Regions from separate parts of the Homo sapiens genome. Here all the other regions are linked to region 3. Evidence: fine-mapped expression QTL. A gene starts in region 3. Each other region holds a variant in brackets. All regions are shown on one strand. Distances are from middle to middle. Region 1 overlaps LOC105376214 (a long non-coding RNA gene). Region 2 overlaps FRRS1L (ferric chelate reductase 1 like). Region 3 holds the start of CTNNAL1 (catenin alpha like 1). Region 4 overlaps TMEM245 (transmembrane protein 245).

Region 1 (8,146 bases), 890 kb before region 3:
TGCTGGATCCTGCAGATAGAAATGAATAAGAAACAAAAGTCAGAAAAATTGTTTGTTCTTAAGGCACCTCCAGTTCTGATTTATTTATTAGAATGAGCATCACTGTCTCTGTGTATGATTAGGTCCAATAAACCATAACCATAATTTTTATTCCTAGAAACAGGCCAGATGACCCTTTCAGTATATTGGTATTCTCCAATCAACAACCTCAAGAGCTCATCAAACAGTATGAAAAGAGAAAGGGAGGAGGTCGGAGAAGAAGGCATAGATGAGCAAAGAGGGCTACAACTTCTCCATAATATGAGCATTGGAATTCCTTTTTCCTGGTCCAAACAGAAGACATAGCCATAAACCGAATCATGTTTTATTAAAACATATATATATGTTTATATATAATAGTTATGTATATTTTTTATAAATATATTTATATAAATATAAATATAAATACATATAAATTTATATATAGTTATATGTAATATACATAACTATTATATATAACTTTATATATAATATATATTATATATTAAGTTATATAATATGTATTATATATAAAGTTATATATAATATATAAATTATATATTGTTATATATATTATAAATAAATAAATATATATATAAAGTGATATATACATATAAAACTTTAGGCTCTATCCAAAAAGGATTTGAGTCTGTTTACAGTAAGGGCCAGGCATATGGAAATTCACTAAAAAATAAACAGTAAAGCAGAACCAAAAAATGAGAAAAAGGGAAAGATTGGGCGCTTCATAGGATAATATAATTCTCCTTGACATGGTGGAGGATCATACTGGGCTCTGAGTTTTCCAGCAGTGGCAAAAGTAGGAGTATAAAATTCTATAGCACTTATTCTCAGAGCAGCAAAAGCTCTAAAAGTTGATTAAAGAAGATAAAAGTGTTTGGGGGGATTATTGTACTTCTACTTTGTTGGGTTTTTCTTTTCCTTTTTCCTTGGGGCTGTATTTTTAAAGTAACACCTGATTTAGGACTTGACATAAAGAACATTGAAAAACACAAAGGACCAAGACCCTCTCCTTTGGAGTGTGAGCTTTCTGGGGAGGGACCACACTATTCTTCATTTTTAGATTCCTAGAGCGCAGGGATATGACTAGTTAGAAGCTCAACAATTGATTGCTGGATGAATGAATCAGTGTATCACAGACTAATTGTAGTCTTAACAGCAAATACCAAAGCGAATTTCCTACAACTGATACTGATAACAGTGTTTGCAAACATCTCAGTATGTGCTCTTAAAGAGCAGATCAATGAAGGTAAGGAATGTGACCGAAGTTAAAAGGTTTTCATTCATCTAATTTTGAGTGAATAAAAGTAGACCATAGGAGAGACAGCACAAATATTCAACCTGACCATGCCAGCATGGCTGACCCATTTGTTTGTAGTCAGAGTCCACTGTAATTGCTTGATGGATGTTGACTATTCCGAATATCCTCAGCAGAGGAGGAGGGTGTACCATTCTTTGCTTGAACTCTTTCTCATGAATTCACTTCTTTCATTTTAAACTATTTAAAAAATAATAGAAACCTTGATGACCGGGCGTGGTGGCTCACACCTATAATCCCAGTACTTTGGGAGGGTGAGGCAGGTGGATCACCTGAGGTCGGGAGTTCGAGACCAGCCTGACCAACACAGAGAAAACCCGTCTCTACTAAAAATATAAAATTAGCCAGGCATGGTGGCATATGCCTGTGATCCCAGCTACTCGGGAGGCTGAGGCAGGAGAATCGCTTGAACCCGGGAGGCAGAGGTTGCGGTGAGCTGAGATCACGCCATTGCACTCCAGCCTGGGCTCGAAACTCCATCTCAAAAAAAAAAATAATAGAAACCTTGAATGCCACTATATTATGCCACTGTATTACTTTACAGCGTGAAATAGAATATCAAGTGAAATGGATGCTTGTATATGCTCAAGAGCCCTGTCTCTTCTCACAGGTAGTTCTTCTATCTAGGAAGTCAAAGTGTAAGAAAGTTGCTTGATGACTCTAGAATCCGAGTTGGCAGAGTTTGCTGAATTTTCTTAATTATTGGGGGTGCTGTTGGGTTTGATCACTGACGTGTTCTCCAATGCTCAGAAAAAGTTCCAGCCGTACAGACTCTAGTGTGAGTGGGTCAAAATATCCTGTCTCCTAGGGCCTCACTACATTGGCCAAGGTATTTAGACAAAATGCATGAAAACCTATTGAAGTTTACTGAATATGCCAGACCTGATGCTTGTGCAGGCCACCCGTATCAGTAAGAAAAAAGTCTACCACCCCATCTTCTGGATTTGATAACTGCAACAGTAAATATTGGCACTCTACTAAAGTTCTTAGTCACTCTTATTTGCTTCTCCCTGAGTTTCCATCTAAGTAATAATATCAAACAAACAGAAGGAGTATAAGTTATGGCTGGTTTTGTTGTTTTTTTTTTTTTTTTTTTTCACAAGAAAGAGGAGAAACCATAAAATCTTTTAAAAAGCCTTTTACAGATAAATTGTTTCTAAGCACGACCACACTCCTGAAACACTCAATGAATGGTCTTGAGGTGCGGGGTGCTGCTGGAATTTATCCAAGACTTCAGATGCTGTGAGGATTGGCCATTATCCTTGCCAGACAGGCTTGTCCATCTTCCCATCAGTTGCAAGACATTTAATAAAAACAGGCTGCGTTAATTCATGCTTGTTTAATGGACTGCTCCACGGGGCCTCAACTGGGTAAGCCTGCAAGACCCAGCCATGCATGGCAAATGGCTAAGCAGATGGTTTCAGTTTAGATAGTGGCTGTCAATGGTTTGGTGCGAACAGCTCTTGCAAACCAGCATGAAGTGAACAGATTGCATGGTGGCTGGGAGAAGCATATGTAATTGGAAACAGTAGCCACTTACAATGGGGGCACATTTTCAATCTTTATCACAGTGGCTCCAGTTGGGAAAAAGAGAGTTGATTAACCAAATGTGTTCTTGGCTGTGATGAATCCAACATTAAGAAAATTTGGGTAGTGTCTCAGGAGGGTGTTGGGCATGGCTGGTCTGCTGCATTAATCAAGGATGTCTGGATCCCAGAACTAATCCTGTCCCTGGGAGACAGGGAGGCACTTGGAGAAGCAGAGAACATGCTCAAAAGAGCCAAATCAGCAAGCTGAAACTTGCAATAGCTGGAGTTACGGCAATAGAGAAGGTCAGGTAGTTTAGGCAAACTGTGTCCATGGGCATAAAAGACCAGAACAGGTAGAAATCCACATGGGTTATTTGGGGAAAGGAAGCAGAGGTGCATGATTTTTGGAGACCCTCACTGAGAGAGGACATATGAAGGTTTGCAGCAGATGGTATGGCTACAGCCTCCAGGTCAAGGCTACTTAAAAGACTGGATCTGAGAAGGAGTTGTATGGGCGAGACAGGGACATTTCTTAGGATGACAGTGGAATGAAAACATTCCCTGAGACAGAGACAGGGCAAATGGACCAAGGCAGGTACTGGACCCTGGCCTTAGAGCCAACTTTGCAGAAAATGTGGCTTCCATATTTATTGGCATTTATTGAGTAATTACCTCATCCTAGTCCTTGTGATAGGCTGGGGACACAGATCAATGAGACATGAATGATCTTCCTGACTCCTTTTGTCTATCACTCCTACTATTCCTCACCTCCGTCAGCACTTCTCTGCCCACCTCCTTGACTATATTAAATTCTCCTGCTAGTCAGTGTGCTGTGTAGTTGCTGTTCTTAACACCTGTAAGTTTCAATTTTTTTTTCATGTATTAGATTATGATTTTATTAACTCCCTTACTAGACTGCATGTACCGTGACATCGAGGAACACTTTTGGCTGTTTATTTGTTTTTTTAAATCAATGTATTTTGTGTCTCCCAGGGAGTGAACACTCAAGAATATTTGCTTAACTAA[T/C]GTATGGATGAGTGAGGGGAAAAAATGATTTCCTTTTTTCTCTAACTGCTTAGAACCCAGGAAATAGTGACAATGCCAAAGTAGAAGACAACCCCAGGCTCAGTGCCCAACCTAGACCATGGGCAGTCAACGAAGGCCTCCTGGGGCAGGTGACCCATGGCTAAGGTTTGAAGCTTAAGGTGAAGTTGGCCCAGCAAAGATGGCAAGAAAAGCTGGAGAAACTTGACACAGCTCCTGAGAAATGAGCTGAAGCTGCTTAAATGCTTTCTGCCCAATGCTCCCTAAGTCTGGAAAATGGCAGGCAGAATGGAACCAGTGTTGGGTATTCCCTGGTTCAGCTATGGAGAGCACAGGGTAGAAGGACAGGGGTCTAGGTAAGACCTACATGGGATGGAGCACCATGAGAACAGCAGAGTCTTTCTCGAGGGAAATACTGTCTCTCTCCATCACAGTAAATGTAGAAATGACAGAGCCTGAGATCTGGCTGCCTGGATGCCATGAGGGCCACAGAGAGCTGCCCAGGCCTGCCCGAGTCCCCCCAGGCCCCAGGGCCTGACTCTATACTGCACTTTCCCACAGTGTTCTGTCTTAGGCCTGGCACCGTATTTGCTGTGTGTCAGGAAGGCCACCCAGCCTGAGGCACCCTTGGCAAGGAGGGTTGGGATTGTGGGGGCTGCCCACTGATAGCCTGGCTTGCTCTGATACTAAGGTGCTATCTCCTTGAGTCAATTTCCTCTGGCGATAACACTCGCCCCGTGTAAAGGGCCTATGTGAAGGAGCCATTCTTTTCCCTGCCCCTTTACACAGCCTGGCTCAGTCAGCTCTTTTGGCAAAGCCCGGGCTGCTGACGTGACAAGGTCACCCGGGACATGTGAGCTACACGTATGCAGGGCACTAAATCAAAGGAGGCTCAGTGCCATCTGGCCCAACACCCTCACTTGACAGATGAGAAAACTGAGGCCCAGAGAGAGGGCGAGACTAATTCAAGGTCCCACATAAAGCTACCAACGACAAGGCAAGAACCCAAGACTTTTGACTCCCTCTTCAAGTGCTCAGTCACCAAAGAAACAATGAAAGAAACCCAACATCATTCAGAACCACAGTTCATGGAGGGAAACAGTCAGGTAAGATCTCTGAATAGCAATCCTGCTGTTGGAACCCCTCACCACACTAAGGCACCTAGAGACGCAGCTATGTGTGACTTTGCACAAATTGCTTTTTCTCTCTGAATCTGTAATAGAGGGACAAAAATGATCATGGTTGTCACATTGTCCCTGATTATGAGACATTCACTTAGAAAGATATGCATCCCAAGCCAATTATAGTACAGGATGAGTATACTAGAGATGCATACAAGGTACCCAGTTTGTTCATGGGCTGACAGTTTGTCCAAGGGAGAACCTGGAAGGGCTTCTCAGAGCAAGTGGCACTTTGGCAAGGTTTTTAAGCAGCTCGTCCCATAGGTGAAGATAGTGGACAGTCAGAACAGAAGCAGCAGCGTGCACCCAAAAGCCTGCTGTGGGAACTCTCCATCTTGTGTTGTGATGAGAATGTCAAGTGCAAAGAAGTGCACAGGGGCTGACACATGGGACTGAACAGGAGTCAGAGTCCAGATCTTGATGGTCAGGGAGATGGTGGTCAGATCTGAATTAGAAACAATCACTCTGGGGCTGGGTATGGTGGCCCAAGTCTGTAATCCTAGCACCTTGTGAGGCCAAGGTGGGAGGATTGCTTGAGCCCAGGAGTACGAGACCAGCCTGGACAACAAGGCGAAACCTCATCTCTACGAAAAATACAAAAATTAGCCAGGTGTCGTGGTGCACATCTGTAGTCCCAGGTACCTGGGAGGCTGAGGTGGGAAGATTGCTTGAGCTCAGGAGGTTGAGGGTGCAATGAGCAAAGATTGTGGCACCGCACTTCAGCCTGGGCAACAGAGTGAGACCCTGTCTGGAAAAAAAAAAAAAAAAAGAAGAAACACTTTGGATCCTGAAGTTCAAGTCATCATCAAGTGAAATATACCTATCTGAAATTTGTTGTGAAACCTCAACTGAATAATTCATTTTCAGCATATCTAACTGAATAAATCTAGTTTGTCCACTTGAATTGTGTCATTTTTATGTTTGAGTTTAATAGTTTTAAGAGAGCTACAAGTGTAAGGAGTGTATAGCTACTTTTATGTCAGCATACATTTAAATAGCGCTAAGTCAAGTTTTTAAAAAGTTACACTGGAGGTTGCTATGAAGGATGGAGTGTTGGAGACTGGACTAGGGTCAAGAAGACCAGCCAGGGGAAATTTGTAATTGTGTAGGTGAGAAATAGTCCCTGAGACAGAATACAGTGCATGGCTTTAAAACGTGGGCTCCTGTGTCACGCTATCTGGGGACAACTTCAGTTTCCAATCCTTATGATTTAATTTGGACAAGTAAAATCATTTCTCTAAACCTCAGTTTCCTCTTCTGTAAGCTGGGGATAATAATACAATGGAACTATTTCATTGGATGAAATGAATTCTAATGATTAATAATAATTCATATAAAGTATTTGACATGGAATTTGGCCAAAGTATATGTTCAATAAAAATTAAAAGATAAATTCACAACAAACAAAACCACCAAAAAACACAAAGATGGAACCAAGGGCAATGTACACTAGATAGTCTTACATCGAAACGTAATTTTAGTGCCGAGAGAAAGAAAACTGGGAGAGGAAACCTTTGGAATGGAAAGTTCTAAGACCTCCCATGACTCACCTCCAGAGCCCTGTGTTGGGCTCCTTTCTGAGACCCTTTAGGGTGCTCTGTGATGAGAGTTAGGGATGTAAAACTGCAACTGGGTGTTGTCTCCAAACTTCTAATAACCTCAGCAGGGAAGACACCAGGTTCAAGAGGACCAAGAAGAAACCCAGAGCCAGCAAACAAGACATGGGGTTTCATTATGGGTTTACATACAGGGGAGAGAGTCCAGTTGAGGCAGAGGAATAGGGTCTGGAGGCAGGGAACCTAAGGCCATTTCACGCCAACTTCCTAGAACTAAATTGAAAAGAAAACTCTAACTTTTCACTCCCAAGTAACTAAAAGACCAGAGGCTACTCCCTTTGCAAATCCCCCACCTTTTCTGTGTGGCAGATGGGAAATTGGCTTGCACAACCAAGCTGACTTATTGTGGACTGAGTCTTCCTTTGCATAGAAGTACAACTTTGTAACTTCACCTTAGCCTCTGATTGCAAAAATCAACCAATCAGATGTTTGCACAGGAGTGTGACCTTTGTAATTCCACTTCATCCTCTGGCTGGTTGCTTTCTGCAACCAATCAGACTGATTGCAGGCCACCACTTCATTTACATGAGGTGAGCATGAGGTGGCCAATGGGAAATCTCTAGGGAGTATTTGGACCTGAGAAGATTCTGCATCCGGGCCCTTGAGCTGCTGCTGCTTGGCCCGCTCACACACTGTGGAGTGTACTTTCATTTTCAATAAATCCCTGCTTGCTGTCTTTCATTGACTCATTCTTTCCTTGCTTTGCTGCACGTTTTGTCCAATTCTTTGCTCAAAATGCAAAGAACCTGGACAACTTAAGTCAAGACCCTCTACCTGTAACACAGTGGTGTGAGTTGGACAAGATAACCGCATAGCCCAGTGGCAGTGGGCTGGGCAGAAAAACTGCAATCACCTGCAAACATCATCCGGTTTATAGAGCGTTTTCACTTAACACCCTCCCCATAATGACCTCCATCTAGCAACCTTTACTTAATCCGAAACTCAGTGCCTCAATCCCCTTACAGCCCCATGTTCCACAGGATGGGGTGCAGCTCAGATGTTTCTCATAGACAAGGAATACATCTTTGAGTTGGCCACTTCCAGATTCCCTAGCTCAGAACACACATTCACATGCGTCTGCCATACAGGGTCATTCTAAGTGTTTGCTTAGGTTATTGCTATCAGATGCGTTTACCCCATACCGGGTGGAAATGATGCCTTTGCATCTGCAACTGGGCCTCACTTCAGAGTGTAACTGACTGACTGCTGGAAGTTTCAAAAACAGAGTGAAGGATCATTTGGCTTCTGTTGAAATACGAGATTCATTTAAAAGTGAACACTTCACAGGGCACTGCTTTGGTCGAAGTAAGATGTTTCTAAATACTTTGTGCTACAAATCTTCAGGTCTCCTAGACTGGGGCTTGATGTTTTTCATCCAGTGTCCATCTCTGATTTCTCTCCTTCTGCCCTATCCCAGGAAGT
Region 2 (8,000 bases), 140 kb after region 3:
TTACAGGTGGGATTACACCTGTAATCTCAGCTATGTTGGGAGCCCGAGGCAGAAAAATCAAACTTGAACCCAGGAGGCAAAGGTTGCAGTGAGCCGACATCATGCCATTGCACTCCAGCCTGGGCAACAGAGCGAGACTCTGTCTAAAAAATAAAAAAAACCCAAAAGGACAGGGTTCGGATGAGCTTCTGGATTGCTGAACAGATGGAGGTGCCTGAAGGGTAGCACACCCAACAGGGTGTTGAAGCTCCTCACTCCCTTCCCCATGCCTTCCCCTAAGTGTCTCTTCCATCTAACTGTTCATCTGTATCCTTCAAAATAGCCTTCATAATAAATGAGTAAAGTAGGTGGGATACGGTGGCTCATGCCTGTAATCCCAGGACTCTGAGAGGTCGAGGTGGGTGGATCATCTGAGGTCAGGAGTTTGAGAACAGCCTGGCCAACACGGTGAAACCTCGTCTCTACTAAAAATACAAAAAATTAGCAGGGCGTGGTGGCAGGTGCCCGTAATCCCAGCTACTTGGGATGCTGAGGCAGGAGAATCGCTTGAACCTGGGAGGTGCAGGCTGCAATGAGCCAAGGTCACACCATTGCACTCCAGCCTGGGCAACAAGAGCGAAACTCTATCTCAACAAACAAACAAACAAACAAATAAATTAAATAAATAAATAAATAAATGAGTAAAGTGTTTCTCTGAGTTCTGTGAGCCACTCCAGGAGATTAACTGAACAGAAGAGGGTGGTGGCACCCCAGATTTATAGCTGGCTGGTCAGAAATACAGGTCACAACCTGGGGCTTGTGACGGGTGTCTGAAATGGGGGCAGTCTTGTGGTTTTGAACCCTTAACCTGTGGGATCTAATGCTATCTCCAGGTAGGTAGTGTCAGAAACAAAGTGAATTAGAGGACACCTAGCTGTCCACTGGAGAAATGCTTGGGGTGTGGGGGAACACCCCCACACATCTGGTCACAGAAGTATTCTTTCTGTAGTGAGAATATGAGTAGAGACGGAAAAAAGTTGTTTTTCCCTCTTATAAGTGGTTCTTTCACTTCTGCCTCTGCCATGAAAAAAATATGCCTTGGATGACTAGTGAAAACACAGAGAAAACCTGAATCCAACTCATGGACAGGCGTCAAGTCCAGATGAACCCCACCTAAAATGAGCTGCACCCCAGTCAATCCATGAACATGTGAGCAAGCAATAAATGCTCATTGTTATAAGCCATATAAGGCTTATAACATGGGGGCCTCTTCTTGCAGCCTTACTGTGGAAACAGCTGATGAAAAGAGGTGCCACAAGACAGCTTGGATTCTGATAGCCAACCCTTTCATTTAAGCTAGCCTGAATTTTTTTTAACTTGCAATCAGAGAGCCATAACTAATTTGATCATTATACTGCTTTGATCAATTAACTTGCTTCTAAAATCAAAATAGCACAGCCAACTAAAGAGAAAAAATCAGCTTCTATCATGTTTTGCATCTTACCATTTTCTTGTCTGAAGAGAATCCAACTGCTACCCAACCATCTGTGTCTGCACTCAGCTCAAATTCTACATCAGCCCCTATCATCCGGTAGCTGAGGAAATAGTCACAGGTCTCTGCATTACAGCCTGGTTTGCCATATCTAGAAGAGATATCGAAAGAGACTTTACTGCTTCTACTTACACAAAAGACATTAAGAGAGCATCTACCATGTATCATGTGGGATGCTAAGCAATATTATTAAACACATTGGATTTTTGCTACCTGGAATCTTAAAAACACAGTTTCACTCTCTTAGGAGGAACCTTAGAGATGATCTGCCCCACTTTGTACACAAGAACTGCAGTCCTGAGATGGGAAGGGGCTTGCCCGAGGTTGTATAGTGAAGTCAGCGGTTGCAACAGGACTTGAATCTGGGTATCTAAACTCCCAGCCAGTGTTCTCTACATTATATTAGTATTAGAGTCTTTTACATGTTAGTTACTACTGAATTATTTCTGAATCCCTTTTAATGGAAAAAGATTCTCCAAGTTAACCATTTAAATTGTTTCTGTTAATTAAATGTATACCAACTCTTTTTAACTTACAAATTTTCATATAATCAAACTAACACAAATTTACAAATTCAATATAAATTAAACTAATAAACCAGGAACATTGAAATTCACAGCACTCATGCAACAGATAATGGGGCTTTACTGAAAGTAAATTTCTGCTTATGTGCATGTGGTATCCGATTAGATCGTGCAGGGTCTTTGGAGTTGAGAGCATGTTCTTACTACTCTCTATAGCATGATGGCTCAACTCTTCACTTTTATCTGTTTGAACTGCTGCAAAATCCTTATTTATGCGATACACCAAATGAATACCCCCATCTGGTACTCATGAACCATGAATGAATGCAATATTTATTTACAATTTTTTTTTCTTTTTTTTTTTTTGAGACAGTCTCACTCTGTTGCCCAGGCTGGAGTGCAATGGCGGGATCTTGGCTCACTGCAACCTCCACCTCTTGGGTTCAAGCAGTTCTCCTGCCTCAGCCTCCCAAGTAGTTGGGACTACAGGCATGGGTCACCACACCTGGCTAATTTTTGTATTTTTAGTAGAGACGGGATTTCACCTTGTTGGCCAGGCTGATCTTGAACTCCTGACCTCAGGTGATCCACCCACCTCAGCCTCCCAAAGTGCTGGGATTACAGTCAAGCCACTGTGCTTGGCCTTATTTATAAAATTTGCCTTTGTTCTGTTGGGCTACTTGCTGCTAATATAATTACAAATTCAGACACTAAAACATACAACAATATAAGGTGATTATCCAGATAGTGAGATTATGCAGACATTCATGTTTTTTTGAGAGCACCACTGAAATGAAAACACAAATTTAAATTTTCTTACAGAGCACTTGTGGATCCTTTCAGAACTGGCAAGCCCTGGTTTGAGGAACACTGTATTACACCATTTGCAGAATGGTAGAAAGTTGAAGCAATGGGTGGGACAATATACGCGCAGATGGAAGGTATCTAAAGGAACAGGGCACAGGGGTGCTAAGTGTTGAGGAGGGGACAGAAATGTACTACTATGCTGGCAGAAATACCCGAGCAGTCAGGAAGAGATATAATAGGATCAAGGCAACAGGGCACTGGGGTGAAAAAGATGAAAAGGAGCAAGGGAAGTTAAAAAAAGGAGTAAATGGACAAGAAAACAAGTCACTTTGAAGCCAGTAGAGTACTAAAATTCCCTCCCTTCTCAAAATATCCCCCAATCACCAGGTTTATACATTGCTGACCATCTTCCTCAATAAGAACATTTTTGGCTATTTTTATTCATTCCTTAGAAGTGGCCTTGTAATCCAAAGAAAGCTCAAAGCCCCTGTATTCAATTTTTCCTTCTTAGACCTTAAGTACTGAACAACAGCAAAATCAGAACCTTCAGTACAGTGACCATCAAAACTTTGCCCCTGACCATCAAATTATTCAGGGGCAATTTGTTTTAGGAAGTAAAGGGTTCAAAGGAGGAGGCTTTCCCAAAGAAGCTGAGCTGTCTAGATGGGAGGCCCATTGTCCACATGACTGTTTTCTAGCCCAGCCCGTCATGTCGTGATACTACTAATAATCATGTAGAGACTCACCATGCCTGAGATAACAAGCTAGCAACAATGAATGCTTAATGACTAGTTAGAATCATACAGATATCCATAGGTCAGGACTATTTACTAAAAAAGGAATTGGGTACTAAACATGTCTATCATTGCCTGTCCTGCCCACAGCCCCTGCTGAATAAGCACAGACACGTTCTGTGTCACATGAGTCTTCTGCATATCAGCAATTGGTGAGTAGGAGACACCTGGAGCAATGGTGGTACAGCTAGAAAAGAACCATGGAAGAATGGTCCCGGGCCCAGGACATACTAAAGTTAAAAGGCCTTTAAGACTGAAAAGCGGGATGGCCGTTACGAAACTTCATAACCCTGCTGAGGTGATCAAGGAGCTCAGGCCCCCTGATTAGAAGGAACTGCATGCAATTTAAATACTACCCTGAGAAGTAAATCAGTCTTAGCCTTAAAGTTATCCAACCTGCAGTTCCACCAACCTAAAGCATCCCTTAGTTTTTCCACAGTCGTCCACTTTGATTTTGGCAAATGGATCCACAGGAGGAGCAGTAGGGAAGGGGTAACCTGGGCAGTGAGAATAAAGAAGGGTTAGAAAATCCAGTAACAACTGTTCCAATGAGAATTTTTAAAAATGTGTTGACTGTTTTTTCTCACACATATCGAGAAATGTTTGGGGACTCAGAAAATGGCTTTGATGAAGGCTAATCATCCCCTTCATGGGGGAGGGTGTAGGACACACACCTTTGGACCTAATCTTGCATGTGAACTGAGAGTAGGTGTGTCCTTTTCTCACTTTACAGGAGAGGAACCTGGGGCACTGAGAGAGGCACAATTTCATATAACCACGGGCTTACCGCTGTCCCCTGGGAGTTTGAGAATCACACGTTTAATACAATATACATGTTCTAAGAGAAAAAAGTTAACAGTGATACATTTATATACTTGATAGTGGGATTTTTCCATTTATATACTTGATAACAGGATTTTTCCATTCCATTTTCAACTTCCATTTTGC[G/A]TTAACCTGTAGGTAACATTTTCTTAGGTCACTAAATTCTTTGTTTTTGTTTTTTGTTGTTTTTGAGACAGAGTCTCCCTCTGTTGCCCAGGTTGGAGTGCAGTGGTGCCATCCTGGCTCACTGCAACCTGTCTCCTAGGTTCAAGGGATTCTCTTGTCTCAGCCTCCCGAGTAGCTGGGATTACAGGCGCCGGCCATCAAACCCGGCTAATTTTTGTATTTTTAGTAGAGACAGGGTTTCACCATATTGCCTAGGCTGGTCTCGAATTCCTGACCTCAAGTGATCCACAGTCCTCAGCCTCCCAAAGTGCTAGGGTTACAGGTATAAGCCACCGCACCCAACTTGTCGCTAAATTCTTTAAACACATAATTTCTAACAGTTGTCTATCTTTCTTATAAGATTACTTACCACCATAATGCATCAAACCATACACCATAATGCATCAAACCATACCATACCCAACTTGTCGCTAAATTCTTTAAACACATAATTTCTAACAGTTGTCTATCTTTCTTATAAGATTACTTACCACCATAATGCATCAAACCATACATTGAAGGGTAAGGCTGCATTATGCCTCCACTTTGTGAGAGAAATCTTTTCTCCTAGGCTGTTTACTCCACGTACACAGGAATCATGTGAGACTTATCTTGTATTCTCTGCCCAGCATAGTGCTTGGCACTGGACACTGAATAAATGATTGTCAAAGGAATAAATAAAATCACCCACAGACATTAGGAAATGTAAATCAGTACAAACTTTTAAAAATCATTCTATTTTATGAGTTTTTTTCTTGTTATTTTTAAGTTTTTTCTTTGGGATTTGTAATGCTACTTTTTTTAAAGTGAGGCTTTGCTAATTTTGTCCATTAGATTTATTATACTTTAAAAAAGCCACCAGGTCACACTTTTCTGGCACACTTCTGTGCACTCTGAATAGTCCATTTTTACTATCCTGGACCTTGATCACATCATAAAGTACAATCCTAACTTTTTACCACCAAAGTAGTTGGATCAAATGCATTACTTTTTCTAGTTTTATGCTTATTTTATGCTAAGTCCTATATCTGCTTCAGTACTAGAGACCAGGGATCCCCAATCCCTGGGCCACTAACCAGTACCAGTCCATGGCCTGTTAGGAACTAAGCCGCACAGCAGGAGGTGAGTGGCAGGCAAGCAAGCGAAGCTTCACCTGTATTTATAGCCACTCCCCATGGCTTGCATAACTGCCTGAGCTCCACCTCCTCTTAGATCAGCAGTGGCATTAGATTCTCATAGGAGTGCAGTCCCTATTGTGAACTGCATATGTGAAGGATGTAGGTTGTACGCTCCTTATGAGAATCTAATGCCTGATGATCTGCCACTGTCTCCCATCACCCCCAAATGAGACCTTCTAGTTGCAGGAAAACAAGCTCAGGGCTCCCACTGATTCTACATTATGGTGAGTTGTATAATTATTTCATTATATATTACAATGTCATAATAATAGAAATAAAGTGCACAATAAATGTAATGTACTTGAATCACCCAAAAACCTTCCCCTTGACCCAGTCCATGGAAAAATCGTCTTCCACTAAACCAGTCCTTGGTATCAAAAAGGCTGGGGTTCACTGCTATAGACTGAGTCCTGACTTGAACGAGTTTTGTTTTTTTCTGAATAGTTATTGAGCCACTACAAACTACTGTATGTTAAGCAGCTTCATATATCTTCTTCCTGTTACTTCTCACTACAGTCCTGAGGCCATTTGTCTCAGAATATTTATCCAGGAATTCAATGATTGTTCACTTACATGTTTTTGAAATTCTAGAGTTCACTGACAAAGACAATCTCTTTTAATGTTGCATCTGACTCAGGTTCCCCATCTTCTTCCATTTTCAAACATATCATCCTCACTACTTCCTGGCATCTAGAATAATACGTTAGCATACAGCAGATTTCCAGCTCAATAAATACCAGTTACTATTACTACTGGATTATTATCACTATTTTTTTTTTGAGACAGAGCCTTGCTCTGTTGCCCAGGCTGGAGTGAAGTGGCATAATCTCAGCTCACTGTAACCTCTGCCTCTTGGGTTCAAGCAATTCTCCTGCCTCAGCCTCCTGAGTAGCTGGGATTACAGGCACCCACGACCACGCCCGGCTAATTTTTGTATTTTTTGTAGAGACGGGGTTTCACCATGTTGGTCAGGCTGGTCTCGAACTGCTGACCTCGTGATCCGCCTGCCTCAGCCTCCCAAAGTGCTGGGATTACAGGCATGAGCCACTGCGCCTGGCCCTATTAAATTTTGTAAACTGGCCTGAGAAGTAATAACCATTGGGTACGATTGTCTCTTTAAGAACAACAAGTTTCAGCTGGGCATGGTGGCTCACACCTGTAATCCCAGCACTTTGGGAGGCCAAGGTGGGCAGATCATGAGGTCAGGAGATCGAGACCATCCTGGCTAACACAGTGAAACCCGTCTCTACTAAAAAATACAAAAAATTAGCTGGGCGTGGTGGTGGGCACCTGTAGTCCCAGCTACTCAGGAGGCTGAGGCAGGAGAATGGCATGAACCCGGGAGGTGGAGCGTGCAGTGAGCCAAGATCGCACCACTGCACTCCAGCCTGGGTGACAGAGAGAGACTCCATCTCAAAAAAAAAAAAAAAAAAAAAAAAAAAAAAAAAAAAAGAACAACAGGTTTCTAAACTCCAAATGAAAGCAAATTTTGGAACAAAGCTAGCTCATAAATGTTCTGAACTAGTTTATTCATGTTGGCAAATGGCTTCTCAGGACTTTTCTAGCACTAATTTTCTATTATCATATATGCTTCTAAAACTTGTAATAGGAACTTGTGTTCTGTCAAATGCACTTGGACATGCCTTTAATAACATTTTCCTCTTATATTGCAAACTGTTGAAAAATAAAGAATTTGGCCTTTGTCCCTGGTTTCTGGGAGACAAACTCTAAAACCTTGGAATTTCCCAAGTAATGGGAGTGTTTTTGTTCTTCATGAGCCCCTTGGATTACACCTGAGTTTATGCTGAGCAACGGGATGACTAAGAATAGAGGCTGGTCACTGGAAAAACCATGTAATTAGAAGGTTGGGGCTTTGTGCTAGACCTACCTATAGGGAGGGTTGTGGGGCTGGAGATTGAGTTTAACCATGTGGCCAAATGATTAAATCAATCATTCCAACATAGTGAGACCCCAATAAAAACTCTGGACACTGCGGCCCAGTGCAGCTTCCTGGTTGAACACATCGATGTGCTGGGAGGGCAATGTGATAATCCCACGAGGAGAAGGCATGGAAACTCTGCCTTTGGGAGCCTCTCAGACCTCACCCTATGTGTCTTTTCATTGACTGTTCCTGAGTTGTATCCTTTATAATAAAACTGTCATAGTAAAAATAGCACTT
Region 3 (8,146 bases):
TGGAATCATATTCTCCCACTTAATGACTTACGTTTTCCTTTTGATGAACAGAGGTTCTTTTTTTTTTTTTTTTTTTTTTTTTTTTTGAGACAGGGTCTCATTCTGTCACTCTGTCACCCAGGCTGAGTGAAGTGTTGTGATCACAGCTCACAGCAGGCTTAACCTCCCCAGCTCAAGCAATCCTCCCACCTCAGCCTCTAGAGTACCTGGGACCACAGGTGCATGCCATCACACCCGACTAATTTTTTGTATTTTTTGTAGAGACGGGGTTTCACCATGTTGCCCAGGCTGGTCTCAAAATCCTGGACTCAAATGATCTACCTACCTCAGCCTCCCAAAGAGCTGGGACTACAGGTGTGAGCCACTGCGCCTGGCCTAGGTTCTTCATTTTAAAGAAGTCGAATTTATCCATTTTTTTCTTAAGGTTTATACTTGTGGTATACTAACAAATCCTTTCCCAGCATAAGGTAATGAAGATACTGCCCTATTTTTTTTTTTCTAAAAGTGTTGTGAGCTTTTACTTTCATATTGTCTTTAATCCATCTGAAGTTGACTTTTTACTGGTATGAGACAGAGATCCAATTTCATAATTTCTATTTAGATATCCAATTGTCCCAGCTTAATTTTTTTTAAGTTCTTCCTTTCCCCACTGACCAGCAATGCCAATTGTCATTTACCGAGTTTCCATATATGTGTGGATCTGTTCTAGGGTTTTCTATTCTGTATCACAGGTCTATGTTTTTCAACCCTGTTCTGATACCCACATTGTCTTAATTACTATAGTTTTATAATGAGTCTTGAAATCTGGCAGAGCAAGTCCATCCACCTTGTTTCTCTTCTGCCTAATCTTGGCCCTTTGTGCTTTCATATAAACTTCAGAATTACTTTTATCAAGTTCTACTGAAAAATCTTGCTGAAATTTTCATGGAAATTGCATTAAATTGACCAATAGGGATAACTGATATGTCTATAATATGTCAACCTAGGCTTGAACACAGTACTTTTCTCCCATTTATTTAGATCCATGTTGGCTTTTGATAAAATTTTTAAATTTTCTCCATGAAGTTTGACCACTTTTGCTGTGTATACATAGAGATAGAGCTCTTTCTCTTTATATACATAGCAAAAGCAACATATTCTTAGGAAGCTCATATTTTGCTGTTACTGTTAATATAACTGGATTTTTTTAATAATTACTTTTTCTATTTTTTTTTATTATTTTTTAAAGACAGGGTCCTTGTTGGCCAGGCTGGAGCACAGTGGCGTGATCACAGCTAACTGCAGCCCTCAGCTGCTGGGCTCAAGCCATCCTCCCATTTTTTAGCCTCCTGAATAGCTGAGACTAGAGTAGCTGGGATTACAGGCACCAGCCAGTGCGCCTGTGCCTTGTTTGTTATCAATGTAGAAAAATGCAATTGATTTTAGTATCCTACACTCAGTGAACTTGCCAACACTCCTAATTTTTATAATTTACTTGTAGACTGTTTTGAGTTTTCTGCATAGGTTATTATATCACACTGAGACTTTTGGTTTTTCCTTTCCTATATTTATTCCTTTTATTTCTTCTCCTTGTCATATTACACTGGCTAGAATTTCCAGTGCAGTGCTGAGTAGAAGCATAGCAGGCACCCCACTCTGGTTTCTGGCTTTAAAGGAAATGTTTATTTTAAATTTGACTGTTGCTATGATGTTAAGTAAAAGTTTTCTGTAGATACTCTATCAGGTTAAGGACACTTTTTCCTAACACTAGTTCCCTAAGTGCTTCTTATCATTATTAGAAGCTGAATTTAGTTGAATGCTTTTTCTGCATCATTGTTAGGAAAATACATCTTTTATAATCTGTGAATGCAAAAAAAACTATACACATTTTTCTAATATTGATAAAATCTTGCATTCTTAGAATAAGGCCAGTAACCCAGGACTTTTCACTTGGAGAGTCAGAAGAAGCTAGATGATACCAGAATAGAAACTGTCTACTTTAAACCGTATAGTGCCAGTCCTACTTGTTTACCTCAAAACCCTGCCTCCTCCATGACATCACTGCTGACTCATCCATGCCTTCTCTGAGCTTTTAGAGTATGTACCATTGATGATGTTCATTTGACACTTTGCATGTGCTGTTCTATACATGACCTATCTACCAACTAGAATATAAGCCCCTCAAAAAACAGCAACAAATAAGCACACAATAAATCCTTGCTTAAAATGCTTAAAATATCCTTGTGGATGAGATGGTGAAACATGAGTTGGGTAATAATACAGCATTCTCAGAAAATGAGACTTGTGGACATATGAGTTTTCTGGAGAACTGCTGTTTTAATCTCCTAACACTGAAACTTTAAAATCATTCTAAATTGTACTTCCCTGCTTTGTTAACCGAGTATTCTGGCCATGCTTAATACACTTCTTGATTTTAACTTTTTCTTGTTAAGGACAGTCAATTATGAGGAATATCAGTTATGGTGTTGTGGTAGAGATGTAGCTGTAGATACACAATGTGTGGGATGCAAAACCTCAGCTGTGACCCTGAACAAGGCTTTAACTGGAAAAAGAAAAAAAAAAAAAGGCAGGCATTCTTCCCCTTTGGCATTGACCTCTAACTCTCAGCAGTGATTTATACTTTTCTTCCTCTGCTCTCCTACCCTTCTCTGGCTTCTTTTACCCCAGAGTTACACAATGCAGAGCTGTAAGACTGATACATTTTTAGCAGTGGATACTGTGAAAAGTTGCCATTTCTCCAGATTATGACTTTCTAGCTTGTTTTTCCACTATGTACCATCTTTTTCTCTAGATCTCATTACTGCTTCTAATCTCTAGAGAGGACACAGCATAGTGTAGCAAAGAGAACCTTCTGGAGCCAGGGTACCTGGATTCAAATCCCAGTTTGGCACTTATTGAAAGCCCTAACAACAAATTATTTAACCTCAGTATTCCTCAGTTTCCTCTCCCATACCACGAGAATATATACCAACTTCACATGATTGTTATGAGAATTAATGAGTTAATATTTACAAAGTGCTTAGAACCTGGCCTACCACATAGTAAGCATTACATAGGTGTTATTTAAAAAATGGATAAAATACTATCAACTTGAACTCCATCACTCTCTTATCTCTCTGCCTCTTAAAACTGCTCCAGTGTTTCTCGTTTTGGTTGTGTTGTGCTAGTGGAGATAGGCGAGGAGCGGAGGGTCTGACATTACTGAGGGATCCCAGTGCCCCTTCCCACTGGTCAGAGCCTCAATGAGACACAGGAAAAGGGAAGGAGAGTGTCAGATATATTCATCACTGCTCCGTTAGCCATGCGAAGGTGAAGAAAATAGGGATGTTTATTTAACCAGCATAACAGGAATCCAGGGACATGTGTAACTGCTGTTTTCAAATATGCGCAGGGCTGGGCAGGAGAAGAGATAATAGCATTTAGAATTCTATGCAACAGCTACAGGCTCCCCTTCACTGAACATGTTTAAGCAGGGTACTGGTGGCCAGGTGTCAAGGATGCTAAAGAAAGAATTTTTAGTCAGATAATCTTTAAGATTTCTTCTACCTCTAAAATCTTGGTAATCCTAGTATGAGTCACGAAGTGGTTACAACCTAGATGTGAGTCACACATCGCCAACGCGCTCCCGAAGGCACAGAATTCACTCCCCACAGTGCTTGGCATCTTACCACAGACCTAAGTGAGGAATTCTAGCCCTGAAGCTGCATATAACCCAGCTCAGAGAAACAAAAACTTTCCTAAAACTCAGGGCGTCGGTTAGCTGATTGGCAAATACAGTAACGCACACATCCCAAACGGGACTTGGCAAAACGGTGTGCATCTGGATTAACTGTCATACAGTCTCCACGTCACTCTTCCACGAGGCCGGACAGAAGCGGGCAGAAGTGAGCAGCAGCAGGTTCAGGGGAAGGGGTAGGGTGGCCGGGATGAATGGGAGGCCAGCGAACTGACCTACGGCGGGGAGGGACAAAGGATCAGGGAGCGCACGCTGGGCGGGGAGGCCGGGAGGAATACCCCAGGCGGAGGAGCCGGGCTCGGGACCAGGCTGCGAACTGGTGACAAAGTCGGTTATCGTGGAGGGCCCTAAGTACCAGCGAGGGGCCCCGCGGGGGTCCTCTCTGCCTCGGGAGCTGGGCTCAACCACTCGCCCCGCGGAGGGGGCATCGCCCGGCCGGGGGCACCCGGGAGCCGCAGACCCGAGGCAGGTACTGGGGGCAAAGGCCCAGGCCGGCACCCCCGCCCCGCAGCCTCCCCTGCTGCCGAGTCCACTCAACCCTGCCGCCGGAGTTTGGATTATCCAGTCTCTCGCCGCCCGGGCCGAGGCCCGTCCCGGAGCCCCACACAGGCGGTCCGACAAGAACGCCGCAGTGCCGGCGCGGAAAGTGGGGCAGCGGCTGCCTCCCGTCCGGTCGTGCGAGCGGCGGCCGCCATCGCGGGCCGCGGCGGGAAGGAGAAGAGGGGCCGCGCCAGGCGCCACTTTACCTGAGAAACCAGCGGGAGTAGCGTCTGCTCCACCGAGCGAGTTTTGATCTCCAGTCCCGAGTCGAGGGCGAAGCCCGAAGAGCCGGAGCCGTAGACTGCTCCGGCGCCGCCAACGCCGGCGGGTCCGGGAGAGGCGGCCATGGCCCTCGGTCTATCCCGCAGCCGGGACTCCGCGCCGCGGCGAGCCTGCCGCCAGTCAGCCCACCCGCCCGAGGCGGCGGCGACAGGACACTCGCGCCAACCGAGACCCCGCCCCCAGGGGCCCGCCCCCCCAGGGCTCCGCCGCCAACCCTGCGTCCCCGACGCCCGTCACCGTATGTCCCCGCCCACCCCCGGCCTCTGCCCCGCCCGCGCAGTCCAGCCTGGTGTGGGCTCCCTGCAACCCCACCCCCTAAGCCGGGTCCCGCCCCCACATGGCCCCGCCCTTATCTCTTCTCAGACCCCTTCCATGGGTTCCAGGCACCTTCTCGCCAGGGTGGCGAGGAGAAACAAAACACATCTGTCACACAGCCACATGGCCTCCTCTTACTTGGACAGACAAGCGTCCCCAGCAAAGCTTCCCGTCCTCTCGATAGGTGACTCGTCCTAAATCAGCTCTGAATTCCCGCAAAGACTTCTGGAAGCTGTGCTGGGGTTGAAACTGGTAGACCAAAACCAGAATCAAGTCTGTTGGGAGGGGCCTTTCCCCTGGGACGGGAATTCCAGTGGTAATGTCTTCCTGGGGCTTCTCCGGAAGGTCCAATTTCCACTCCACCCTGCTCATTCTTTCACCATGTATTTCTCACAAACACTTTGAGCTGGATTGAAGGGGAAACATTTGATAATGCAATCATTAATGGAGTATCTGGGTATTCGGCAGGAAGTCAGTATATCTTTCACACTACTGTTTAGACTTATTCAAAAGAAATTTAAAAGAAACATGAAAAAGCCTCATCTACTGTTCAACACTACTTCTTAAAACTATTTTTCGAAGTTTTTTCCTAGTGCCAGGCACAGAGCAGTTTCTTCATAACTGTTCATTGCATGAAAACACCAAGTGTGTATTTCTGACAACTCACTTGAGGGGAAGGGTAAGAATCAGTTCTGTAAGCACAACTCTGAGCTCGCACAGAGCCCCACGATGGGGGCGGGGAGCTGAAGACTCCTATTCTAAGGTCTCCAGGAGCAAGGCCAAAAGGAGGTTGTCAGCAGTATGCACGCCGTGAAGGAATTCCAGACTTAAGCAACAGACTGAGAAGCATGAAAAAATGTTTTGTCAACTACCATATCTGCCAGTGAGAACCTGTCAGAGTAAAAAAGAATCTGAGGCTGGCCAGTCCACCCGGACACCTTGGCCTGGATCATTTCTTCTTCCATAACACCAGATTGATGAGCTGGGTACATCAACCTGAGGCATAAGAAAGCTCTTTCCCAAGCACCGTTGAAAGGCGCTTCACAGTGCTTCAACCTGTAGCTTCAGCTTCATCAATCTACCAGTGCTGCACAGCTGTCTTTGGTATTGAAGATAGCCAAGCTTCAGCTTCTTTTTCTTCATTCAAAAAGGACAGGTCCTCAATCCAACTTTTTCTTCCAATTCTTCTCAGCCAACCATCTCACCACTTCCTTACCTATCACAAGGCCACCTTCCCCTGTGCACTGAGGGCCCTTGACCTCTTTAAGGCGCCCAGTGTCCACTTCCTGGACACACCTTCCCTTACGAAGTTGACAGTATCTCCTAAGAATTCAGTGTACACAATGGTGCCGGAGGAAATGGCATAACAGAAGGCCTAAGAGACGGATGGATTCATGAAACTTTGGCTTCACAAAAGATCAAGTTTTTCAACACACAGGAGATTAAGTTTACCACATGATTCATTCAACACTAGTAATTTTATTTCAAAATATAAATATTTCACATTAATAAAGAAGTTACATCAGTAGGTTGTCAAAGCAAGTTAGCTAAGAAACAGCATTTGTGTGAGAACAGAGGGTATTTATTGTATTCGAATATTCTTTTTTACTTTTGAATTGCCTCCTTCACCTGAGAACCCAGGGATGATACATTTTCAAAGAGTTATGTAAGCAATTACAACTCTATATCAAATCTTAGTTCAAAATCAAATTGTACTGGAAATACACTTCAGTTACCTAAATAAGTGGCACTGCAAAGGGCAAAGAAGGGTTTTCTTTGGGATGGCTACAATGAGAGTTACATCTGCTGGGTCTCTGCAATAAAAAATAAATGATATTTGATAATAAGCCAAAATTATCAGGATTTGCTTCCATACTTTTCACTGTAAAATAAAAAGCTAGCAAAAAGCTAGTAAGAAACCAGATGTCTAGTAAAGAACTCTGGACTTGGAGTCAGAAGTTCTGCAACTAAATTCTGGCTCCATCATTTTGTGGTATAAACTTAGGGGAATATCACCAAAAACTTTTCAGAGCCTCCAGAGCCCCCCCATCTGTACAATAAGGATAATATTGTCTGTCTCACAGGGCTGTTACAAAAGGTGTCTGAAAACTATAAAGTGCCATACAAAAGCATTATTAAAATGTAATATCAATATATCACCACTGTATTTGCACATTAGTTGATCCTTGAAAAACCTGCAAAATTAAACACAATACTGATTTTACACACCACAGGTGGAAAAGAATCTCTATACCTTAAGTATAGCTCTAAACAGCAAATATACTTGCTTTCTGGACTTCAAGATTTATTACACACTACATGGTACCACAGTAATAGATCTGCCATTCAGTATTTCCATTAGGGATGTCTTCTCAAAGAGTTGTAAACTTGATCAAGGGCCATGTTTCTCAAAGGACCCTGTAGTCCTTTGAGATGCTCTGAGGAATAAAGAAGGGGAGTGCAGTCTAAGGTCAAACAGTGTTTGTCCCCTTTTATAAATTCACAATGTGTAATAGCATGTTCAAAACTCTTAGAAGTCCTACAGTAAGGAAACAAACTCAGCATTCCTTCATTTTAATTGACCATGCAATCCCCCACCCCCAACACACACACACTTTTTTTCTTACATCTATTAACATCTCTTGGAACTACTGCTATATGGAACACATTTTGCCAAAAGCTGCTCAACCATGAAGAAAAGGAAAGAGAAGTAGAACAACGGACTGACAGAAAAAAAAGAACTCTATTCTATTCTGAATTCTGTTACTAACTGGCTGTATGTGTATGTCAGACAAGCCACTTAAACCTATGAATTTGGGTCTTTCTCTAGAAAGTGACAGGACCACCTAATTTTAGAAGTCCCATTCTAGCACAGAATTTCTGACTCTAGTAGACAGAACAACTTGATTTATAATTCTCTTAAACTATCAAAAATAACCAAACAGTGGCTGCAGACAGCATGTGTGTTTTTTTTTTTTTTTTTTTTTGCAGGTTCCCAATAATCGGTAAGTTAATAAAATGAATATATTTTGATGGCAGAATGTTGAAAGACAAGAAACTAATAAAAAGTACTTGTTTTTAGCTGGAACTAGCATTTGGAAGTAATGCTAGCCAGAGGCTATTTCCACTGTGAAATGCACACTCAAAGTCCTATTGTAATATTATTTTAAGGGTCTTAGGAGGCCCCTCAGAGGAGACTGCAAGGTCAGGGCTAGAGTATGAGAAGTCCTAAGGGTTTTTGTATTTTGTTTTTTTTTCCTATAAACCCTGAGG
Region 4 (8,146 bases), 56 kb after region 3:
GAGTGCAATGGCACGATCTCGGCTCGGTGCAACCCTGCGACTTCCACCTCCTGGGTTCAAGTGATTCTCCTGCCTCAGCCTCCCAAGTAGCTGAGATCATAGGCACGTCACCACGCCTGGCTAATTTTGTATTTTAGTAGAGATAGGGTTTCACCATGTTAGTCAGACTGGTCTCAAACTCCTGATCTCAAGTGATCCACCTGCCTCAGCCTCCCAAAGTTCTGGGATTACAGGCATGAGCCATGGCACCAGGCCTCAATGTTTCCTTAGCTTTTAGACCCACTTTCCCCACAACCTCCCTTTCATTCTACTCTGCCTGGTTTCTCTGTTCACATGTCCTGAGTCACCTGCCTTATTCAGCACCAAAGAAAATGGTTCTGGGAGACTGGGATATTCAACATCTGGGACAGGGTTCTCAAAGTGTGGTCCACAAACCAGCAGCATCAGAACTTTTTGGAAACCTGTTAGAAATGAAAAATTGGGGGCCCAAACCTAGATCTACTGAAAAAGGAACACGACTAGGGCCCAGCAATCTGTACCTTAACAAACCCTGCAGGTGATACTGATGGCATGCTACAGTTTGAGAATCACTAATCTAAGGAAGTGAAGAAATCAGAAAGAATGCAGGAAATGAAGAAGGTGAATCATTATCCTCAAGTTGGTTATCTACTGAAGATCTTTTAAAGATAGAATTCCTGAGCAAAGTTCCAACTATGCAAGGAACTATAGCCCACAGCTTTACTTGTTGTGCAGTGAGAGGTGGCCTCCTCATTCTTCTGTTGACTAAGCAGGCTGTACCATACACCTTAATCAAGAATCCTTTACACAATCCTAATGTTTTCCACAAGAGAAAATATGTTCACGTATTATCTAAATTGTTCCTCTTAATAATATACGCTGGAGATGTTGACATTCACAAATTTAACAGTCCTCATTTCAACTATTCCAGAGTGAAGCCAAAAGGTGAAGGCAAGCAGAAGCTAGTCATTTACTTTCCTGAGGCCCCAAAATGACACATCCTACAAACCTAACACAAAAGGGTCAATTAGGTAAAGTCAAATGTGCAACATCCTCAACTCACAGCAACTTTATGTGCTGTGTATGAGAAAGATGGTCATAAAGAGAAAGTCAGTTGCCACTGACAGCCACAAAGTCATGGTGCCTAGGAAAGTGGTCTTTAACCAGAAAAAAATAAGAGATCTTTTGAATAAATTAAAAAGTAGACTATTAAACCAGTAGTGGGTTGAATCTTAAGTATTAACCAGTTTGTCCCACACTCCAAATAAAGTATCTGTGAAACTTCTTGGCAAATGCCTCAGTCCACTCAAACATTTCTCAGCAAGGCCAGCACGCTGGCTCATGCCTGTAATCCCAGCACTTTGGGAGGCCAAGGCAGGCAGATTACTTGAGGCCAAGAGTTCAAGACCAGCCTGGCCAACAAGGCAAAACCCCGTCTCTACTAAAAAATACAAAAATTAGCTGGGCATGGTTGCACAAAACTGTAGTCCCAGCTACTCAGGAGCCTGAGGCACAGGAATCACTTGAGCCCAGGAGGCAGACGTTGCAATGAGCCAAGATCATACCACTACCCTCCAGCCTGGGCAAAAGAGCAAGACTGTCTCAAAAAAAAAAAAAAAAAAAAAAAAAATTTCTCAGCAAGTAAGACAAAATTTCAAACGTTTAGAGACACAAATATAATAATTTACAGTATAAGCATATAAACAGGAAATCTGGGTCACTAAACTGAAATGTGATTCGGGAGAAATTAAGTAGCTTTTAAATTACTCTTTTATACATTCATCAGTGGCTTGAAGGGACTGCTAAATATTTTCAATTATATGGTAACTTATAATTGATATTATATTGATATATTGGTATTATATTGATATTATATATTATAATGATAACACTCTCCTGTAGTGTTATTCAAAAGTGTGAAGATGGGCAGGGCATGGTGGCTCACGCCTGTAATCCCAGCACTTTGAGAGGCCGAGGCGGGTGGATCACCTGAGGTCAGTAGTTTGTGACCAGCCTGGCCAACATGGTGAAACCCCGTCTCTACTAAAAATGAAAAAATTAGCCAGGTGTGTTGGTGTGCGCCTGTAGTCCCAGCTACTTGGGAGGCTGAGGAAGGACAATTGCTTGAACCCAGGAGGCAGAGGTTGCAGTGAGCCGAGATCATGCCATTGCATTCCAGCCTGGGCGGCAAGGGCAAGACTCCATCTCAAAAAAAAAAAAAAAAAAGTGTGAAGATTCATAGAGGTATCTGGACAGATCCTTAATGATTCACAAATGTCTATTGGGCCTGGGAAAACGTCTTATTGGCCACTATGAAAACACTTTCCCAATGTACTCACACAGGTTTCCTAAGAGCAACAAATGAGAGGAGCTGTTTTGGGGACAAGGTAGAGGTACTGGCTCAGTCCCAGCCTCCCTCAAGAGACATGGGGCCAGAAACACAGGAGCTGCCTTAGCTGGGCTGTACTCCGGCCTTACACCTCTACAGCCCCTGAACTGAGCTCCTTCCTTGGAGATTCACTGCCTCAGCCTATCACTAACTCCCCTACTCACTCAAGAGGGATCCCTCAGCAGAAACCAATGCCCTACAGTTTAGACTGGTCTGCCTTCACCTTCCTGGGTAAAGGTTAATCTCTATCACCTACTACCTACCAAGAGAACAACCCTGATTAAAAACAACTTAGTTTAGCCTACTGGGTTTCTCCCAAGTAAGCGAAGGGATAAGTGCAACTGAGAACCATTTCAGTGCCATCTCCTAATGAGGGTCCTGAGGCACAGGAATCAACAGGCTTGAGACAAGTCAGGAGAAAGCAGAAAATGAGCTCCCGACTAACAACTGCCGAAGACAAGAATCAGTATGTATAACATCATTATTTTCTTTAGAGCTCCACTAAGATGATCCTAATCTGTCTAATTTACCCACCAGCTTACGAGGCACATCCAGCAGAAGTCAAGGGACTACATGGGCCATATAAAACCACACCAAGTTGGAAGAAAGGACATCTGGACTTATTCTTAACTGTATCTTCTCCACTAGGAGTATCTACATGAATCCCCTACAAGGTCAACTGCCCTCCTGCTGACAGAATCCACTGAGTACTGAGAGATGCAGGAAACCATTATCATTATTTCATGCCGACCCCTACTATTTCCAATCCCATCCCCACCTATCTGCTGAAAAAGAATCAGACCTTCTATGAATCACCAAAGTCTAAGCAACTTCAAAAAGCCTTCCTTGGCCGGACGCGGTCACTCAAGTCTGTAATCCCAGCACTTTGGTAGGCCGAGGCAGGTGGATCATGACATCAGGAGATCGAGACCATCCTGGCTAACACGGTGAAACCCTATCTCTACTAAAAATACAAAAAAAAATTAGCCGGGCGTGGTGGCAGGTGCCTGTAGTCCCAGCTACTCGGGAGGCTGAGGCAGGAGAATGGCGTGCACCTGGGAGACGGAGCTTGCATTGAGCCAAGATCGCGCCACTGCACTCCAGCCTGGGCGACAGAGCAAGACACCATCTCAAAAAAAAAAAAAAAAAGGCCTTCCTTTTGGGAGGCCAAAGCGGGTGGATCACTTGAGGTCAGGAGTTCAAAGACCAGCCTGGCCAACATGGTAAAACCCTCTCTTACTAAAAACAAAAAACTTAGCCAGGCATGGTAGTGCGTACATGACTGTAATTCCGGCTACTTGGGAGGCACAGGAATCGCTTGAACCCAGGAGGTGAAGGTTGCACTGAGCCAAGATCACACCACTGCACTCCAGCCTGGGTTAGAGTGAGACTCTGTGTCAAAACAAAAACAAAAACAAAAACCTTCCTAAATGGAACATTAATTGGCAATAAAAAAGAACAAACTTGATACCTACAACATCTTGGATGAGCTTCAAGAGAATTATGCTAAGCAACAAAAAGCCAATCTCAAAAGGCTGCATGCTCCATGACTGGATTTACGTATTATTCTCAAAATGATTTTATAGCTATGGAGAACTGATCAGTGGTTGCTAAGAGTTAGGGAAATATTGAAGGAAAGGGTAGAGGATGGGTGTGGCTGTTAAGGGGTGGCATGAGGAAGCCTGCAATGTAACAGTTATGTACTGAGTGTGTTGATAGCTGACATGAAGCTACATAGAGGATGAAATCTGAAGGTCAGTGTATTATAGCAATGCCAATTTCCTGGTTTTATTGTACTATAGTTATGCAAGATGACAACACTGGAGGGGATGGGGTGAAGAGTATATGGGTCTTCCCTGTATATGTCTTTGCAACTCCCTGTGAATCTATAATTATTACTTCAAAATTTCAAACAAAAGACAAACCTTTCTTCTACTACCTGATCTGGGGCTGCTCAGATTGTGTGCCTTTGATACAGTTGCAGAGAGAATGCTGCTACTATTCAAAACCGGTACAAAAGGGCTCTGCATTGACTTCCAGTACAGAAGAATGACCCAAAGAAAAGGAGCCCTCTGGATGTGA[G/A]GGCTGAGGCTGAGCCCTAGAGGACAACATTTGGAAGGTCTATCATCCTATGAAAGGCTCTATCCACTTGCCTAGATCCCAGGTGGCTCCTTCCTAAAATCCCATACCTGATACATGTTGGTTCCTCCTTTTTCCCATTCTCCTTTTAAAATGTATTATATCCAAAGAGCCAGAGGACAGAAGACCTCACTTCTTACTTCAAAGATGTATGGCCCCTAATTTCCCGCCTTCCCCGCTCCACTGAACTCACAGTATTTATATCCATATCCATTCTGACCTGCTTTCCCCAGCTGTTCCATTCGTGCCATGGATTCATCTCATGCTTCATCCTCAGAGAAATGCACTAAGAATTATCTCTCTCCTAATATTTACAACCCCTTCCACTCTACCAGTTCTTTCCCTGGAGCATACAAACAAGGCTTCTCCATCTTAAAAAATTAAACAAAACTGCTCTATACCTCCTTCCCAGCTACGTTCCATAGGCAAACTTGGGAAAGAGCAGTCTATACCTGCTTTCTCTAGTTCCTCGTTCCCAATAATTTCTCATCACACTGCAATCTAATGGGCTTCTGCTACACCAATTAAATGAACTGCTCTTGCAGCTGCTAAACCCAATTTCACTCTTAGAAAATTTCTGCAGCAATTTGACATTGCTGACCACTACTACTGTCTCAAAACGTTCTCTTTCCTTGGTTTTCCTCTTACCTTTCTCATAGCCCATTCTCATTTTCCTTTGTGAACCTATTGTTTTTTGCTCACCCTTAAAGGCTTAAGATATCCACAGGGCGCACCTCCAGACATCCTCTCTGTACCTTACATACATTCTTTATGCTGATGCTTCTCAAAACTCAAGATCCAACCCAGACCTCTCATCTGATTCCTGGACTTACACAGCAACTGCCCATTTTTTAACTTCACCCCATCTCTCCTGAACCGCATACCTACATAGTCAACAGCCTACTGGATGCCTCTACTTACAACAGTCACCTCAAACTCAACAGGTAAACAGGGGAATTAGTTTCCCTACCAAATCTGCTCTTCTATTTCCTGTCTTGGTGAATCCACCATCACTCACTAATTTCCAAAGCTAGAAACATAAGTCATGCTAGATTTCTTCCTCCTATATCCAATTAATCACCAACTAACCCCCTTAAGACCTTATAAATCTGTCCCTCCTGTTCACCTCCACTGAAACTGTCTACAGTTCAGGGCTTTGTCACTTCTCATCTGGTTTACTCTAGAAGCTTTTAATTTGTCTCAAAGGTTTACATCTTGTATACCTTCAATCTTTTCTCCACAAAGCAGCTGAAAAGCCTGTTCTAGAATGAAATATGATGATTCTACTTCTCTACTTATATCCTTAATCAAAATAATAAACATATCTATCACTCCTAAAAATTTCCTTGCACCTATATGTATGTCCTCCCTAGAGCTCCACCCCAATCCACAGGCAACCATTAATCTTACTGTCACTACAGATTAGTCTGCATTTCCTAGAACTTTAAATAAATGAAATCGTACCATTTGGGCTTTTTGTCTGAATTTTTTCACTCAACTTACTTTTTTATTGTTGTTTTTTTGAGACATAGTCTTACCCTATCATCCAGGCCGGAGTGCAGTGGTGCAATCTTGGCTCACTGCAACCTCCGTCTCCCGAGTTCAAGCGATTCATGTGCCTCAGCCTCCCAAGTACCTGGGATTACAGGTGTGTGCCACACACCCAGTTCATTTTTGTATTTTTAGTAGAGATGGGGTTTCACCATATTGGCCAGGCTGGTCTCAAACTCCTGACCTCAGGTGATCCTCCCGCCTCGGCCTCCCAAAGTGCTGGGATTACAGGCGTGAGCCACCCACCGCACCTGGCCAACATACTTATTTTGAGAGTCATCCATGTTGGTACATGTATCATTAGTCCATTTTTTTTAATGCTGTATAATATTCCACTGCATAAATATACCACAATTTATATTTCAAAAGAAATATACTTCTTTTATGAAGATTCAAATAGGCCAGGCACAGTGGCTCATGCCTGTAATCCCAGCACTTCGGGAGGCTGAGGAGGGAAGATCACTTGAGCCCAGGTGTTCAAGACCAGCCTAGGCAACATGGTGAAACTCCTACAAAAAATATAAAAATTAGCCGAGTATAGTGGCTCATGCCTGTAGTCCCAGCTACTCAGGAGACTAAAGTGGGAGGAATGATTGAGCCCAGGAGATCAAGCCTTCAGTGAGACATGATTGTGCCACTTTAATCTAGCCTGGGTGACAGAGCAAGACCCTGTCTCAAAAAAAAAAAAAAAATTTTATTCTAAATCAAGTTCAAGTAATGTCCTAGGCAGGTTTTATATAAAAGAATAAAGTAGAGGCAAAGGAAAAAAATCAACTTAAATCTCAACTTATAAGCCTAAAACTGGCAGAATATTTCCTGACTTATGACTGTCTTGAGGTTAATAAAAGGCAGGTCATACAATGTGTCATCAAGTTGTTAGGTGGATAACACAGCTCTGCTGAACATCCCCCACAAAAACTGAAAACCCTTCTTCCAGAAGCCAAATTACACAGAGATCCTATAAAACAGAAGTTGGCAAATTTTTCTGTAAAGGACTAGAGAGTAAGTATTTTAGGCTCTGCAGAACATATAATCTCTGCCACAGCTACTCAATTCTGTTTGTCCTTGAAGCCCCAAAACAGCCAGAGAAAATATGTCAATGAGTAGACATAGGTATGTTCCACTAAAACTTCATTTACCAAAGTGTTGGGAAAAGGGCTTGTGGGGTGCCTGTATAAACTGGCCACAAAAATATGGGACAATAAGTTGTGGAAAGCCATGAGAGGCCTCTGAGTAGAAAAGTCTCCGAATTGCCATCATGTTCCCATACTCAGAGCAAGACCTGCTCTCTTATCTGTAAACACTGTGTTCAAGGAGAAAGACACTCCCTTGAAACACTGGAATGTGGACAGATGTGCAGGCTCCTAGTTAAGCCCGCTCCCACTAGCTACTCTCCAACAAGTTAAAGATATGCTGTTTGAGCACAAAGGAGATTGATTTAAACCGCTATTGCTATAGATTACACCTATGATGTACTGCCTCCCTTTCAGTGTTTTCACCCTGAACATCTGCTTTTTAGATCTAAGTGATTACACTCAATAAACAGTGTGGAGACCAGAGCTCAGCGCCTTTTGCAGCCTCCATTATGCAACTGGCCCCGACTCCCACCTTCATGAACTCTTAACCTGTACCTGTCTCTTCTCATTCCTTTGTCGCCACCGAACTTCAGGTACCCTACGGGTGGTGTTGAGGCTGGTCCCCAACACAAAAGGAGGTGGCTGAATTTGGCCCTGGGCCATAGTTCACCTATCCTTCCTCAAAAATAATACAATATGGGAATATGTCAATAATTATAAAACTGGGCATGGTGGTGTACACCTGTAGTCTCAGCTACTCCAGAGGCTAAAGCAGGAGAACTGCTTGAGCCCAGGAGTTCAAGATCAGCCTGGACAACATGGTGAGACCTCATTTCTTAAAAATAAATAAATAACATAAATTTAAAAATTATATAGAAAGTTGAGGAGTTACAGTTTCCATGTTATAGTGGAAACTTTCCTTCAGTTGATCAGAAGCAGTGGTTATAAATGACTCTGCCACTGCGGAATTATT

Evidence for each region. PIP is the estimated chance that this variant, and not a neighbour inherited with it, causes the effect.
Region 1: its variant is fine-mapped to the expression of CTNNAL1 in gastroesophageal junction (GTEx, PIP 0.94).
Region 2: its variant is fine-mapped to the expression of CTNNAL1 in lymphoblastoid cells (TwinsUK, PIP 0.95).
Region 4: its variant is fine-mapped to the expression of CTNNAL1 in whole blood (TOPMed, PIP above 0.99).

Annotation. Positions count from the first base shown.
Region 1 is chr9:108,115,219-108,123,364 of GRCh38, forward strand. The region is part of intron 4 of LOC105376214 (a long non-coding RNA gene); the gene reads right to left. Among named protein-coding and RNA genes, the nearest start is that of KLF4, 630 kb to the left of the region's middle. The variant T/C (reference allele first, on the strand shown) is at 3,910.
Region 2 is chr9:109,145,568-109,153,567 of GRCh38, forward strand. It overlaps FRRS1L (ferric chelate reductase 1 like), which reads right to left. Exons shown (of 5, transcript NM_014334.4): 2 at 4,069-4,153; 3 at 1,484-1,622. Among named protein-coding and RNA genes, the nearest start is that of FRRS1L, 18 kb to the right of the region's middle. The variant G/A (reference allele first, on the strand shown) is at 4,605.
Region 3 is chr9:109,008,820-109,016,965 of GRCh38, forward strand. CTNNAL1 (catenin alpha like 1) reads right to left here and starts at 4,680. Exons shown (of 19, transcript NM_003798.4): 1 at 4,483-4,680. The coding sequence starts at 4,623. It overlaps TMEM245 (transmembrane protein 245), which reads right to left. Exons shown (of 18, transcript NM_032012.4): 18 at 6,316-8,146. RefSeq lists an enhancer at 3,868-4,371 and a silencer at 4,033-4,922.
Region 4 is chr9:109,064,831-109,072,976 of GRCh38, forward strand. The region is part of intron 9 of TMEM245 (transmembrane protein 245); the gene reads right to left. Among named protein-coding and RNA genes, the nearest start is that of MIR32, 23 kb to the left of the region's middle. The variant G/A (reference allele first, on the strand shown) is at 4,490.